2 linked regions of the Homo sapiens genome follow. The protein of the gene in region 1 interacts with the protein of each later gene in a pairwise test. Each region holds a gene or a part of one and is shown on either strand. Other genes may lie near its edges.

Region 1 (7,507 bases):
TCAGCTTCCTCGCCTGGATAGTGGTGGGTGGACAGGAGTGGCAGTGAGGGGAGGACAGTGGGTGGGGGCGGGGGTCACACATCTGGATTGGAAGCCTAGTTTTTCTTCTCAGTTGCTATGTGTTGTCAATAGCAAGAAAGCAAAAAAGAAAATGTAAGCCAGGAAGAAAATTGATTTTATTCATGCCCTTTCAATAGGAAGAACGTCCCAGATCTGAACATCAGAGTGTCTCAGATATCTCAGGATGGTTTCCCCTTAGACGTTTTCCTTTTTCGGCCGGGCATGGTGGCTCACGCCTGTAATCCCAGCAATTTGGGAGGCCAAGGAGGGCGGATCACCTGAGGTCGGGAGTTCAAGACCAGCCTGACCAACATGGAGAAACCCCGTCTCTACTAAAAATAGAAAATTAGCTGGGCATGGTAGCACATGTCTGTAATCCCAGCTCCTTGGGAGGCTGAGGCAGGAGAATCGCTTGAACCCAGGAGGTGGAGGTTGTGGTGAGCTAAGATTTTGCCATTGCACTCCAGCTTGAGCAACAAGAGTGAAACTCTGTCTCAAAAAAAAAAAAAAAAAAGATGTTTTCTTTTTTTTTCAGGGACAAGGTCGCCCAGGCTAGAGTGCAGTGGTGCGATCTCCACTCACTGCAACCTCCACCTCCTGGGTTCAAGTGATTTTCATGCCTCAGCCTCCCGAGTAGCTAGGACTACAGGGATATGCCACTACATCCAGCCAATTTTTGTATTTTTAGTAGAGACAGATTTTTACCACGTTGGCCAGGCTGGTGTCGAGCTCCTGAGCTCAAGTGATCCTCCTGCCTTGGAAGGAGGTGCTAAGAATATAGGTGTGAGCTACTGCACCTAACCTCCCCTTAGATTTTTTTTTTCTTTTTTTGAGACAGAGTCTCCCTTTGTTGCCCATGATGGAGTATAGTGGTGGAATCTCGACTCACTGCGACCCCTGTCTCCCAGGTTCAAACGATTCTCCTGCCTTAGCCTCCCAAGTGGCTGGGATTACAGGCCCATGCCACCACACCCTGCTAATTTTTTTTTTTTTGTATTTTTAGTAGAGACGGGGTTTACACCATATTGACCAGGCTGTTCTTAAACTCCTGACCTCAAGTGATCTGCTCACCTCGGCCTCCCAAAGTGCTGGGATTACAGGTGTGAGCCACCAGACCCGGCCCCTTAGACTTTTATAGAAAGGATTTAGACAAGTCACAGGTGGTGGTGGTGGAGGTGGGATTTCTGAACTCATGTGCTGCTTTATAGGAACACAGGTAAAGTTAAACATTGTCAGTCACTGGGTGCTATGGCTCACCCCTGTAATACCAGTACTTTGGGAGGCCGAGGCAGGAGTAAGAGACCAGCCTGGGCAACATAGCAAGACTCTGTCTCTACTAAAAATAAAAATAAAAATAATTAGCCAGGCATGGTGGTGCGAGCCTGTAGTTCTATTTACTCAGGAGGCTGAAGCAGGATTAGTCCAAGCCTGGGAAGTCGAGACTACAGTGAGTTATGATCACACCACTGTACTCCATCCTTTCTAAAAAATGAATAAATAAAATAAATTAATTTTTAAAAATTCAGTGCCTACAGAAGCATAGGAAAAACAAAACAAAACATTGCCAGTGTTTTTGGGCAATTTCATTCTCTTTTGGAGCCCCCTTCACTTCACCCTCAAAATGAGAACGTGGGGCTTCCAGGTGAGGAGTTCTAATGCCCCAATTCCTTTCCAGCCTGTCGTAGGACACTCGGGAGCCCAGAAATGGCTCAGAAGCTCTGGGTCCTGGAGTAGGTAAGGAACTGGAGGGCGTATCAAGGGAGCAGGAAAAAAAAATTTGCAAAAGCAAAGGGGAGTAGCATTATTATTAAAGTCTCCTGAATATGGAAGTACAAATCGCAACCCTTCTAGAGATGCTTAAGTTCCCGGGGCATCTGCAACAAAACCAGAAAGCCCTAGATCCGTAGTGATATCTTTAGTTCCTCAAATTCCCTTGGTCAATAGCAGATCCTACTTCTGCATCAAGGAAATTGGGTGATAGTGACGCGCGAGTGGACTACAAATCCCGTAATGCATGTGGGCGGTATGAGGGCGGTGCCATGTTTAACGTATTTTAGAGACACGTGCTAGGAACTACAACTCCCAGAAAGGCACGTGCGGTACCCGGGTCCCCACTGTGCCAGCTGTTTATTTTTTATTTTTATTTTTATTTTTTACTTTTTTTTTTTTTTTGAGACGGAGTCTTGCTCTGTCTCCCAGGCTGGAGTGCAATGGCGTGATCTCAGTTCACTGCAACCTCCGCCTTCTGGGTTCAAATGATTCTCCTTCCTCAGCCTCCCTAGTAGCTGGAATTACAGGCACCCACCACCATGCCTGGCTAACTTTTTTGTATTTTTTGGTAGAGACTGGGTTTCACCATGTTGGCCAGGGTGGTCTCGAACTCCTGACCTCAAGTGATCCGCCCGCCTCGGCCTCCCAAGGTGCTGGGATTACAGGGATAAGCTGTCGCACCTGGCCTGCTTTTTTTTTTTTTTTTTTAATTTTTAATTTTTGTTGGTACATACTAGGTATACATATATTTACGAGATAATTGAGATGTTTTGATACAGGCAGGCAATGTGAAATAAGCACATCATCGGGAATAGGGTATCCATCCCCTTTCAAGGATTTACCCTTTGATGTATAAACAATCTAGTTACACCCTTTAATTTATTTAAAAATGTACAATTAAATTATTATTGACTATAGTCATTCTGTTGTGCTATCTAATAGTAGGTCTTATTCATCCTTTTCTTTTTGTACCAATTAACCATCCCCCACCTCTCCCCCATGTACACACCCCCACCCCCAATCTTCTTTTTTTTTCTAGTCCAAGGAACACCACCCCTTACTTGCCGACTTCCGAAGGTCACCGGGAGCGGGTTCTCAGCCTCTCCCAAGCCCTGGCTACTGAGGCGTCGCAGTGGCACAGAATGATGACAGGTGACTGGCTGGGGATGTTGGACTTCTGGGTTTTAGGGAGGAGAGAGCTGGAGACCTGGAATCCCAGGTCCTGGAGAGGAGGGGTCTGGGGGCCGGTGAGAATTTTTTATCTTGGTGAGTAAAGAGTTGGGCAGGGTTTGGGAGTTTTAGGTCTCAGGCAAGAGGTGACTGGGGTCCGGGACACTTGGGAGGAGGGGAGGAAGAGGTCAGGGGGCGGGGAGAGGGCCGACAACTGAGTCTCAAAGAGGACTGGACTGGCGTATCCAGACTCCTGGATCTGAGGGAGGAGGGGCTGGGGGCCTGGACTCCTGGGTCTGAGGGAGGAGGGGCTGGGGGCCTGGACTCCTGGGTCTGATGGAGGAGGGGCTGGGAATCCGGAGTCCTGGGTCTGAGGGAGGAGGGGCTGGGAATCCGGGGTCCTAGCGCTGAGGTTTGCCATTCTCATGTCCCACTCATCCTCTCCAGGTGGAAATTTGGACTCCCAGGGAGACCCTCTTCCCGGTGTGCCGCTGCCTCCTTCGGACCCCACGCGCCAGGAGACCCCTCCCCCCAGATCTCCCCCGGTGGCTAATTCGGGTTCCACGGGGTTCTCTCGCCGAGGGAGTGGGCGTGGAGGAGGTCCCACCCCCTGGGGGCCCGCGTGGGATGCCGGGATCGCCCCTCCGGTCCTGCCACAAGACGAGGGGGCATGGCCTCTGCGAGTCACTCTGCTACAATCCAGCTTCTAATCCGCCCAAAAGCGGCAGCCAATCGGAGCGCGAGGACGTGGTCTGGAGGTACCGCCGGAGATCTGGGACCACTCAGGGCATCAGGGGGCGTGGTCTGGTCCCCATTGCGGGCCCGGGAGGGGAATGGTTTCTATGGCCAAAGTTTGGTTTTCTCAACACTGTCTAAATTTGGATTAAAACTTTGAACTTTTAGTCAATAGCTTTCTTTCTGTCTGTCTGGGGTTGTGGCACTGGTGTCTCTGAGGGGCAGAGCTGGAGTCGTGGACTCCTGGGTCCTGAGAGAGGAAGGGACAGGGGGCTTGGACTTATAGGTCTCTGGGAAGAAGGGATAGAGAACCTGATCCCTCGGTCTGAGAGTGGAGGGGGCTGGGCCAGGATTCCCGGGTCTGAGGGAGGAAGGGGTGGGACCCTGACTCCTGGGTCTGAGGGAGGAGGGACTGGGAGGCTGGACTCCCGGGTCTGAGGGAGGAGGGGCTGGGACCCTGACTCCTGGGTCTGAGGGAGGAGGGGCTGGGAGGCTGGACTCCCGGGTCTGAGGGAGGAGGGGCTGGGAGGCTGGACTCCCGAGTCTGAGGGAGGAGGGGCTGGGGGCCTGGACTCCCGAGTCTGAGGGAGGAGGGACTGAGGCTTCTGGATTCCTGGGTCTGTGGGAGGAGGGACTGGGGCTCCTGGATTCCTGGGTCTGTGGGAAGAGAGGAGTGTCTGAGGGAGGAGGGGCTGGGGACAAACTTCCAGGTCTCTAGCCTTCCTGGCAACGCCCCCCGAGGCCGGACTTCCAGGATCCAGCCTCTATTGAGGATTTGATGCGACGGCCTCACGGGGCTTTGGAGGTGAAAGAGGCCCAGAGTAGAGAGAGAGAGAGACCGACGTACACGGGATGGCTACGGGAACGCGCTATGCCGGGAAGGTGGTGGTCGTGACCGGGGGCGGGCGCGGCATCGGAGCTGGGATCGTGCGCGCCTTCGGTGAGCCGGGTCTGACTGCTGGGAGCTGTGGAGTGTGAGAAAGGAAGGATGGGGGCGGGGTGATGGGGGCGGAAAATAGGGACTCCAGTACTGCAGCCAGGATTCTGATATTATAAAAGCCAATTTGCAGGCTAAAGTAAGCGTGTGGCGCTGTAGGCTAGGGCTGAGTCTGGCAGGGTCTCCGAAGGCAGTGGCCCCTTTCTCTGGGTCTGTTGGTGTAGCTACAAAACCAGTGGTTTGAGGAATGGCTCTGTCAGTCGTGGAGTTTGCTCCGGAAGCCACGAACGGGGGTTCAGGAGCCTCAGCAGAAACAAGGCAAGGAGAGTATGTGTCAAGGCGTCTGCCCTCTGTCCTATGGGTGATCATGAGACTGGGGTCACGAGGGGAGAGGGAGATCAGCCCCAATCCAGGTGGCCACAAGAGGGCGGCAGAGGCTTTAACCAAGGCTCGGAGAGTAACCTGTTCCCTTCCTATTCTCAGTGAACAGCGGGGCCCGAGTGGTTATCTGCGACAAGGATGGTGAGTGACGGTCCCTCAGCCCTCACCTTGGCCCTTCCTCCCTCAGACCCAGAGGTCCAGACCCCTAGCACCTCCTCCCTCAGACCCCGGAGTCCAGGCCCCCAGGCCCTACTTCCTCAGACCCAGGAGTCCAGACCTCAGCCCCTCCTCCCTCAGACCTAGGAGTCCAGGCCCCCAGCCCCTCTGCCCTCAGACCCAGGAGTCCAGGTCCCCAGCCCCTCCTCCCTCAGACCCAGAAGTCCAGGCTCCGGCACCTCCTCCCTCAGACCCAGGAATCCAAGTCCCCAACCCCTCCTCCTTCAGACCCAGGGGTCCAGGCTCCCAGCCCCTCTTCCCTCAGACCCAGGAGTCCAGGCTCTGGCACCTCCTCCCTCAGACCCAGGAGTCCAGGCCCCCAGGCCCTACTTTCTCAGACCCAGGAGTCCAGACCTCAGCCCCTCCTCCCTCAGACCCAGGAGTCCAGGCTCCCAGCCCCTCCTCCCTCAGACCCAGGAGTCCAGGCCCCCATCCCCTCCTCCCTCAGACCCAGGAGTCCAGGCCCCCAGCCCCTCCTCCCTCAGACCCAGGAGTCCAGGCTCCCAGCACCTCCTCCCTCAGACCCAGGAGTCCAGGCCCCCAGGCCCTACTTCCTCGGACCCAGGAGTCCAGACCTCAGCCCCTCCTCCCTCAGACCCAGGAGTCCAGGCCCCCAGCCCCTCCTCCCTCAGACCCAGGAGTCCAGGCTCCCAGCACCTCCTCCCTCAGACCCAGGAGTCCAGGCCCCCAGGCCCTACTTCCTCGGACCCAGGAGTCCAGACCTCAGCCCCTCCTCCCTCAGACCCAGGAGTCCAGGCCCCCAGCCCCTCCTCCCTCAGACCCAGGAGTCCAGGCTCCCAGCCCTTCCTCCCTCAGACCCAGGAGTCCAGGCCCCCAGGCCCTACTTCCTCGGACCCAGGAGTCCAGACCTCAGCCCCTCCTCCCTCAGACCCAGGAGTCCAGGCCCCCAGCCCCTCCTCCCTCAGACCCAGGAGTCCAGGCTCCCAGCCCCTCCTCCCTCAGACCCAGGAGTCCAGGCTCCCAGCCCCTCCTCCCTCAGACCCAGGAGTCCAGGCTCCCAGCCCTTCCTCCCTCAGACCCAGGAGTCCAGGCCCCCAGGCCCTACTTCCTCGGACCCAGGAGTCCAGGCTCCCAGCCCTTCCTCCCTCAGACCCAGGAGTCCAGGCCCCCAGGCCCTACTTCCTCGGACCCAGGAGTCCAGGCTCCCAGCCCTTCCTCCCTCAGACCCAGGAGTCCAGGCCCCCAGGCCCTACTTCCTCAGACCCAGGAGTCCAGACCTCAGCCCCTCCTCCCTCAGACCCAGGAGTCCAGGCCCCCAGCACCTCCTCCCTCAGACCCAGGAGTCCAAGTCCCCAACCCCTCCTCCCTGAGACCCAGGGGTCCAGGCTCCCAGCTCTTCTCTCCCTGCAGAGTCTGGGGGCCGGGCCCTGGAGCAGGAGCTCCCTGGAGCTGTCTTTATCCTCTGTGATGTGACTCAGGAAGATGATGTGAAGGTAAGCCGAGTTCCTGTTCCTACCCCCATCTCCGCTAATGACCAGTTCTTTGTTCTCCTCCAGCCATTTGCATATGCCTTTCCCTCTACTTTTCCTTCCTCTCCTGGCTCCGCTGGACTCGTCAAAGGTTTCCACCCAGTGTCACTCCACACACAAGGTCTTCTGTGACTGATGGGCAGGTCACATGTTCCTTCTGTCACACCTCTCCAAGGCTCTTAGCACATTTAACATGTGGATGGAAATGAATAAGTCCCTCAAAGTGGGTCAACTGGAACTGATTTTTCTGTCTCTTTTTTTTGTAAGTGTCACTGAGGCTGGAGTGCAGTGGTGTGATCTCGGCTCACTGCAACCTCAGCCTACCGAGTTCAAGCCATTCTCCTATCTCAGCCTCCCGAGTAGCTGGGATTACAGGTGTGCGCCACCATGCCCGGCTAATTTTTTTTTTTTTTAAGACAGAGTTTCGCTCCTGTTGCCCAGGCTGGAGTGCAATGGTGTGATCTCGGCTCACCGCAACCTCTGCCTCCCAGCTTCAAGTGATTCTCCTCTCTCAGCCTCCCGAGTAGCTGAGATTTCAGGCATGTGCCACCACACCTGGCTAATTTTGTATTTTTAGTAGAGACGGTGTTTCTCCATGTTGGTCAGGCTGGTCTCGAACTCCCAACCTCAGATGATCCGCCCGCCTCAGCCTCCCAAAGTGCTGGGATTACAAGCATGAGCCACCGTGTCTGGCTAATTTTTGTAGTTTTAGTAGAGACAGGGTTTCACCATGTTGGCCAGGCTGGTC
Region 2 (7,020 bases), on another chromosome or scaffold:
TGGCCTCCAGTCACCCTTCTGTCTGGGATGTGCTCGAGAGACACTGGGTGACAAGATGGGTGTCTGAGGCCCTGACAGGCAGGAGTCAGATTCCCCTTGTCCCTCTGACATCTCAGATCACACACCAGCTTCTCTGAGCCCTCCTGGTGGGGGCCAGGGCCCACCCACCCCCTTTTCCTCGGCTATATGTCACCCTGATGACACCAGAGAGAAGGGCTTGGCATTTGAGGAGCAGCGCTGAGAGCCGTGGCCTCGGCAGTTCTAACGAGGCCCCAGACAGTGAGTCCTCTCTATTTCGACCAGTCAGAGTCTGGGTGGTCACTGGTAGAAGGAGATCTCGCCGTCCAGGGTAATCGTTGTAATCCGCGCAGCCCAGAGCTTTCTTCACAGCCCATTGCCCTGATGAGGGTGGAAGGCCCATGGCCGGCAGCAGAGTGGGGGCAGGCTGGGGCGGATGGAGGAGGCCTGTTCCTGGGGAAGGCCGAGAGGGGTCCTCTGGCATAGCTCACTGCTGACCCCATTCAAAAGGCTTTTCTGAAACGATGTGGAGAAAGTGCTGGAAAGAGCAGAGACATGATGGGAAGTGGATGCCAGCTTGGGGGCTCAATGCTCCCCTCAGCGTTCTGGGGCCTTTGGAGTTCCCAGCAGCGAGGTTTATAAAATTGAGATCAAATGGGCATGATCTGAAGTTGAAGATCGGCTGATTCCTCTCCGGGGTCAGCCACATGAAAAACCAGGGCCTGCGTTCACAGGACCAACACTCAAAATGTCCCTTCTACGCTGCACAGTAACAGTCCAGGAAAATCCACCTTAATCCTCCAGCTGCAACTCGGGGGCACCCAGATCACCCCAGGTGACCGTCCTGGAGTCTCAGCTGCTCTCTGTTATGGCAACAGATGTCCTTTGAAAATGCCCGATTAACCCTTTGCACCCGAGAGTCTCATTTTAATTCCTGGACATGCGTCACCTGGGTGGTGCATTTGGCAGGCTCCCAGCCCGCTCCTGGTCAGGTCAGCAGACCCCAAAATGGGCAGGGCCTCTGCATCCTCACACTTCCCCTGCCTGGCCAGACCCTCCCTGCAGCCCTCCTCCAAGGGTGGGTTTCAGGCTCCACATGGGTTCCCAGCCCTTCTCTGAGGGGCCCAAGCTCCCAGCCAGCCGGAAGACAGAGGTGATGCTGTCCCTAAACACCCACCTGAAGGCACTTGGCCTGGCCTGGGCTCCTGGTCCCGAGGGTGCTGAACCTGGGGCTGAGGAAAGCCCACAGTCTCCAGGCTGCACTCAGCAGCTTCCCCAAAGGCCATCTGCAAACCCAAGGATGGTGCCAGGCTCTGAAGCTCCTCCACGCCCTCCTGAAGGAGGCAGGCCCTTGGGGTCACCAGACCTGTTCATGGACGAACACAGAATGGGGCAAGACCAGGAAACCCAAGCTGACGGGCACCCTCAAACCCTGCTACCAAGGACTCCTCCCCGCTCAGCCTCTGGGGCGCGAGGACAAGCGACGGTTCCCCAGGTATCCCAGGGCCCCTCGGTAGGCGCCCAGGAGCCCTTGGCCAAGAAGCCAGAGCAGGGTGGCCCCTCCGGGGGGGAACCGGGGCCAGACAGCAGGAGGGCACTCGCCCGACGGCACTTCACTAGCCGGAGGCATTGGGCCTCGGGGGGCGGTCCGGGAGGCAGGCAGCCACAGTGAGCTGGAGTGACGAGAAGCTCTTTCCCATTATGGGTTCATAATGGGGCCAGCAGGTGCCACGCTGGGCTGCTGCGCCACCGCCTCAGGGCCACTGTGGCCCCTGCACACCCCCTTGAGGAGTCCCCTGTGAGTGCCCTGAGTGGTGGGGCAGCCTGGCAGCACCCTGACAGCTGAGAACTCACAGGAGGCCACCGCCCCACAGGCCTTTCGCTCCCCCGTGGCTGTGGCCGGCCTTCAGGGCAGAACCGGTGCCGCAGGCCTCACCTCATCAAAGGCGGTCTTGGCCCTGCTGGTGGTGCCTCCTCCGTGTGCCAGCCCAAGCCTCGCCACAGGCCTGTGGGTGGGGACATTTTACAAATGAGGAAACTGAAGTCCAGAGACACAGCGAGTGCAGAGCTGGGGTCGGGACAGAGCTAGGGCTGGCTGTGGAGCCAGGCGCTTCCCTCCCACCCTGAAGGTTCCCTCCAACATGCTGCTGCGCACCTCTATCCAGGGGCAGGAGGCTGCCTCCCTCCCTCCTGAACCCCCTGCTCCCCCTGCCCTGATACCGGCAGCTGGCTTCCACAGGCAGCAGCTCTGCGAGGGGCTGGCAAGAACAGCCACAGTGAAATGCCTCACCCTTCTCCGGCCCACCCCACCCCAAAATGTCAGTCCATAGGTAAGGAAAGCTCTCTGAACATGTGGGGCACAGAGACCTGCCCCTGCAGGCATCTTGGAAAAATCGCGTTTTATGGAAATAAGACCATGCACTCGGCAACCTGCCACATGGAGCCTGGGTCCCCCGGGCTGAGGTGGGAGCAAGGTGGGAATTAGCTTGCAGCGTCCAGCTGCCCTTCTTTATTGCCTTGAAAGTTTTGTCACCGAAACCCTCGTGCCCACTTAATCCAGTGACAGAATCAGGGTAGTGTTGCGCCTGCTCCTCTGTTGAACCCCAGCATGCTCGGTGATTCGGGGGAGAAGTCCTGCTGGACTCGCCGCGGTCGGGACCAGAGAGAACCCATGCCCCAACAATCTGGAGCAGCCTCCTCCTCTCTAGTCCTTCTGAGCCTTGAGGCCGAAAGCTTATCTTCGTTGTTCCCGTCCCTTGCAGATGGCAGCCCTCCAGAGCCCCTTCTATGGAGATAAGATGAATCTCTTCTCCCTGTGCCAGAAGATCGAGCAGTGTGACTACCCCCCACTCCCCGGGGAGCACTACTCCGAGAAGGTGAGTTTGCAGGAGCCGGAGGCCTCGCCAGCCCCAGGAGGCCACCGAGGCTTATGAGGGCCGCTCCAAAACACCACAGCTGTGGGGCTGAGGTTAGGCTCACTTTACACGGTGCAGAAAGGGAGCTTTCTGGAAAAGTGACTTGGAGAGGGGAAAGTAGGTGATTGCACTGAAGAAGGGGTTTCACCACGCAGCTCCAGTGTGGGACCCCCAGGTAGGAACCAGTGGCACGTGGCCCTTGGCACATCTCCACCTGTTCAGCTCCCAACTTGGTGCTCCAGTGGGAGGCCCTCTGCTGCAGGTCCCCAGGACAGGGTCTGTGCCGTGCCAGACATGGGAACTGATACAGGGGCAGGATGTGGCAGGCCTGGCGTCCCCATACCACCAGTGGTGGCCACTCTGCTCCCATGACAGGAAACTACGGCAGGAGGACCGGTCAGTTTCCTCCTTATATAACAGACTTAACACCCTGGGCTTCTACTGTCAACATTTTACACTGGCTGCGGGAGCCGTGGACACAGCTCCCATGGGTCTGGCATGGGGCTGTACCAGTTACTAGGAATGTGTGAATATCTTATTCCTCGGCTCCGTCACCTTGAAGATGGGACTAATAATCTCCTTGGTGGATAATGGTGAGGAAGAAAGGACAGGTTTCCTGGCACAGCAGGGTCAAAAGTGTAGATACATGTTCACACACTCTCTGCACTGTTCCTAGGTGAGTCACCTAACCTCCCTGAGTCTCAGTTTCCTCACCTATACAATGGGGATAATATTAAATCTTCCACACAGGATCAGCATAAGGATTAAGGTAAGGCACCAGGCTAACACTGCCACCACCATCCAAAGTGGCCAATGGATGGGGCCTGGCTCAGTCAGTGTTCACTAAATATCATGTGACCCTTATTTCTGTTCAAGGTCAACGCTAGTGGGTGAGTCTGGGGCCTCCGTGGGCCCACCCCATAGGACCACAGGCCGTCACCTCACGATAATAACAGCTCATGTTCAGACTTCCTGAGTTGAATCTTCCCCTCACCCATTTACCAATAAGGAACAGACAGACACAGGCAAGTTAAAAAGACCGGTGAGGCAGGATCTGAACCCACATGCGCAGCCACGGAGCCATCGTGCTTCTTGATGGCATGTCTTTGGTGGCCCATCAATTAGCTGGGGTGAGGCTCTGGAAGGAGTGCCCTTGCCCCGGCCAAACTGCACAGGGCAGGTCCTGGGTGCTGCGCTTGTGTCCAGGCCGGAGGCTCCTCGCAGGGCACCTGTGCTGAGCCTGTGCTTGCTGGCGTTGCAGACTCCAGGGCTAGAGGAGCTCGAGTGTCGGGCGCTGCACAGTGCCCTTCCTCTCCTGGCTCCCAAGTTCTGACCTGCACTTTTGGAGGAAGTATTTCTCCTCCCCAGTGGGAGGAAAAACAAGTTGCATCTCTTTACAAAGTTAATAGTTGCCATTTGCTTTTTTCCTTTCTCATCTTCTGAATTCGGACTTGTGTATGATTCAGAAGCTTGAAGCTGTGCAACTGGAGCTGGTGACAACTCTGTGCTTTGGCTGTCAGTCTAGAAATGGGAGTCGCCCTCTCTACTTCAGTGATGAGGCTGAAATGAACATTGAAGCCCCTGTCCCAAGTCAGCCCTTTCCTGGCCACGAGCCCCCACTCCCCGGAGCACTGGCTCTCGCCGGGCCCCATGCTTAGGAGTGAGAGGTGGTGCTCAGGAGCCCCCAGCACACCCTATTTTAAAGTTATATCGCTGCTTAGAAATGAAAATAAGACACTTTTATTATTTTTCTCTTGAATTCTGAAAACTTCAAACATGCACTTATTGACAACTGTGCGTTTACTTCATAAATTAGTTCGGGTCACAGACACTTCACCTGAATCTGGTTTTCTTGGGTATTTTAACCTGTCAGAGGCCAACCACAGGTACCTTCCCCCGAATATTGTAAGGTTCAGAAAACAGCTGTCTTGTCCACAGGCGACTTCAGACTCCGGGAGTGGCCTAGCAGGCTGCAGGCCCTGTGTCACCTGGGCTTCTCGGTTGTAAGGCATGCACGCAGGTGCGAGGGGATACCCTAAGGCTCTGTGGCCCAGGGAGAAAATGCCCCATCAGCTGAGAGGAGCCCTAGTCTACAGGAAGCCCAGGCCCCATCCCTCAGCCTAACGGGCCTGCGCAGCAGTAGCCCCCGGGCCTCCAGAACGTCCCGTGGGCCCTTCCCAGTCCCTGAGTGAGTGTGGCCACTGAGACCACCAGAGCCCCCTCTGGTTCAGGACCACCCAGCTTCCTGCTGCTGCTGCTGCTTCGGCTGCTGTGGCCTGCGGGGCTGACCACCCCTCCAGCAGCAGGTATTTAAATGGAAACCAATGGCTGTGAGCCCGTGATGCAGGGTAAGATGTAGGCATTTTAAGGTCATTATTTTAATTACCATTAAAATAATTGGCACTCCGGCTATCAGAAGAATGGAGGCGATCAGAGGCGCAAGGCGCCCCTCCCCCACCTCGGGGCGGGAGCAGCCTTCAGTGTCTGTATAATTAAAAGCTCCGTCTTTCATGAGCACAATAAAGGGGCCGGGGGTGGGCAGACTGCAGCCCTGCTGCATGTTAATGCGTTTATTATGATCAATAAGCCCTTGCCTTGAGTTTTGTCCTCTGGTTTGGGCATCTGCGTGACTGACAGCAGACACACACACACACACACACACACACACACAATTTGCCCAATGGTGTGGACAGCTACAAGTTCAAAATAATTTGGAGGTTAACCATTCTTAGGGTCTCAAAGCACAGCCTTTGGGACTAGACAGGCCTGGGAGGGGTACTGGCTAGCCCTTGGGAGCCATGCGGCTGCGCACCCCTTACTTGCCCCAGCTAAACACCGTTCTTCAGCTCTAACGGGGACAACGGGACCATCTAGTTGCTCTGAGGATGAAGTGCCTTCATGCAGACAGACTGTGGAGTGCGGAGCCTCAGTAAGACTGCTTTCTTGAGAATAACACACCATTCTCTCCCCTGCAGTTACGAGAACTGGTCAGCATGTGCATCTGCCCTGACCCCCACCAGAGACCTGACATCGGATACGTGCACCAGGTGGCCAAGCAGATGCACATCTGGATGTCCAGCACCTGAGCGTGGATGCACCGTGCCTTATCAAAGCCAGCACCACTTTGCCTTACTTGAGTCGTCTTCTCTTCGAGTGGCCACCTGGTAGCCTAGAACAGCTAAGACCACAGGGTTCAGCAGGTTCCCCAAAAGGCTGCCCAGCCTTACAGCAGATGCTGAAGGCAGAGCAGCTGAGGGAGGGGCGCTGGCCACATGTCACTGATGGTCAGATTCCAAAGTCCTTTCTTTATACTGTTGTGGACAATCTCAGCTGGGTCAATAAGGGCAGGTGGTTCAGCGAGCCACGGCAGCCCCCTGTATCTGGATTGTAATGTGAATCTTTAGGGTAATTCCTCCAGTGACCTGTCAAGGCTTATGCTAACAGGAGACTTGCAGGAGACCGTGTGATTTGTGTAGTGAGCCTTTGAAAATGGTTAGTACCGGGTTCAGTTTAGTTCTTAGTATCTTTTCAATCAAGCTGTGTGCTTAATTTACTCTGTTGTAAAGGGATAAAGTGGAAATCATTTTTTTCCGTGGAGTGGTGATTCTGCTAACATTTTTATCTACGTTTTATAACTTGGTGAGTGACGATGAGAGCCCTGCACCTGGCCAGAGTGTCACAGGCAAAAGGCATCGGGAAGCAGGAGCATCTTCTTGGCAGCCAGGCTGGGCCATCTTCTCCTGGACACCTGCTGTGTACCAGGAACTTCGTCACCTCCTTGAATGCTGGCGGTTCATTTCATGATCAGTGTTAAGCATTTTCCTCCATGGGAAGGAAGCATGGGATATAGAAAAGCGAAGGGCTGTCCTTTACAAATTCTGGTTCTGCAACTTCCTAGCGTGACTTTGGGCTTGGGCAAGTTTCTTAGCCGTTCTGAGCCTTCATTTCCTCATCTGTACAATGAGATTAATAGTACCTATCATCTACCTTCAGGATTGCTGACAGACAGAATTTGAAATAAAATATGCAAGTTAGCTAATACAAAAAGTAGATGATCCAAAAATGGTAGCCACTCACCCTTCACAAA

Evidence for each region.
Region 2: the proteins of HSD17B14 (region 1) and NEK6 interact in binary tests that used the Homo sapiens proteins (3 or more experiments, as listed by UniProt).

Annotation. Positions count from the first base shown.
Region 1 is NC_000019.10:48,833,492-48,840,998, reverse strand, and holds the start of HSD17B14 (L-fucose dehydrogenase), read left to right. Parts: upstream 1-4,507; 5' UTR 4,508-4,587; coding exon 4,588-4,675; intron 4,676-5,155; coding exon 5,156-5,194; intron 5,195-6,640; coding exon 6,641-6,723; intron 6,724-7,507. Other genes in the region: PLEKHA4 (pleckstrin homology domain-containing family A member 4), read left to right, coding at 1,736-1,794, 2,870-2,982, 3,448-3,710. UniProt on the Homo sapiens protein: Catalyzes the NAD(+)-dependent oxidation of L-fucose, yielding L-fucono-1,5-lactone, which rapidly converts spontaneously to L-fucone-1,4-lactone. Can also act on D-arabinose and L-galactose, with lower catalytic efficiency. Does not use NADPH.
Region 2 is NC_000009.12:124,344,929-124,351,948, forward strand, and holds part of NEK6 (serine/threonine-protein kinase Nek6), read left to right. Parts: exon of another isoform or gene 1-2,774; intron 2,775-2,780; coding exon 2,781-2,894; intron 2,895-5,908; coding exon 5,909-6,019; 3' UTR 6,020-7,020. UniProt on the Homo sapiens protein: Protein kinase which plays an important role in mitotic cell cycle progression. Required for chromosome segregation at metaphase-anaphase transition, robust mitotic spindle formation and cytokinesis.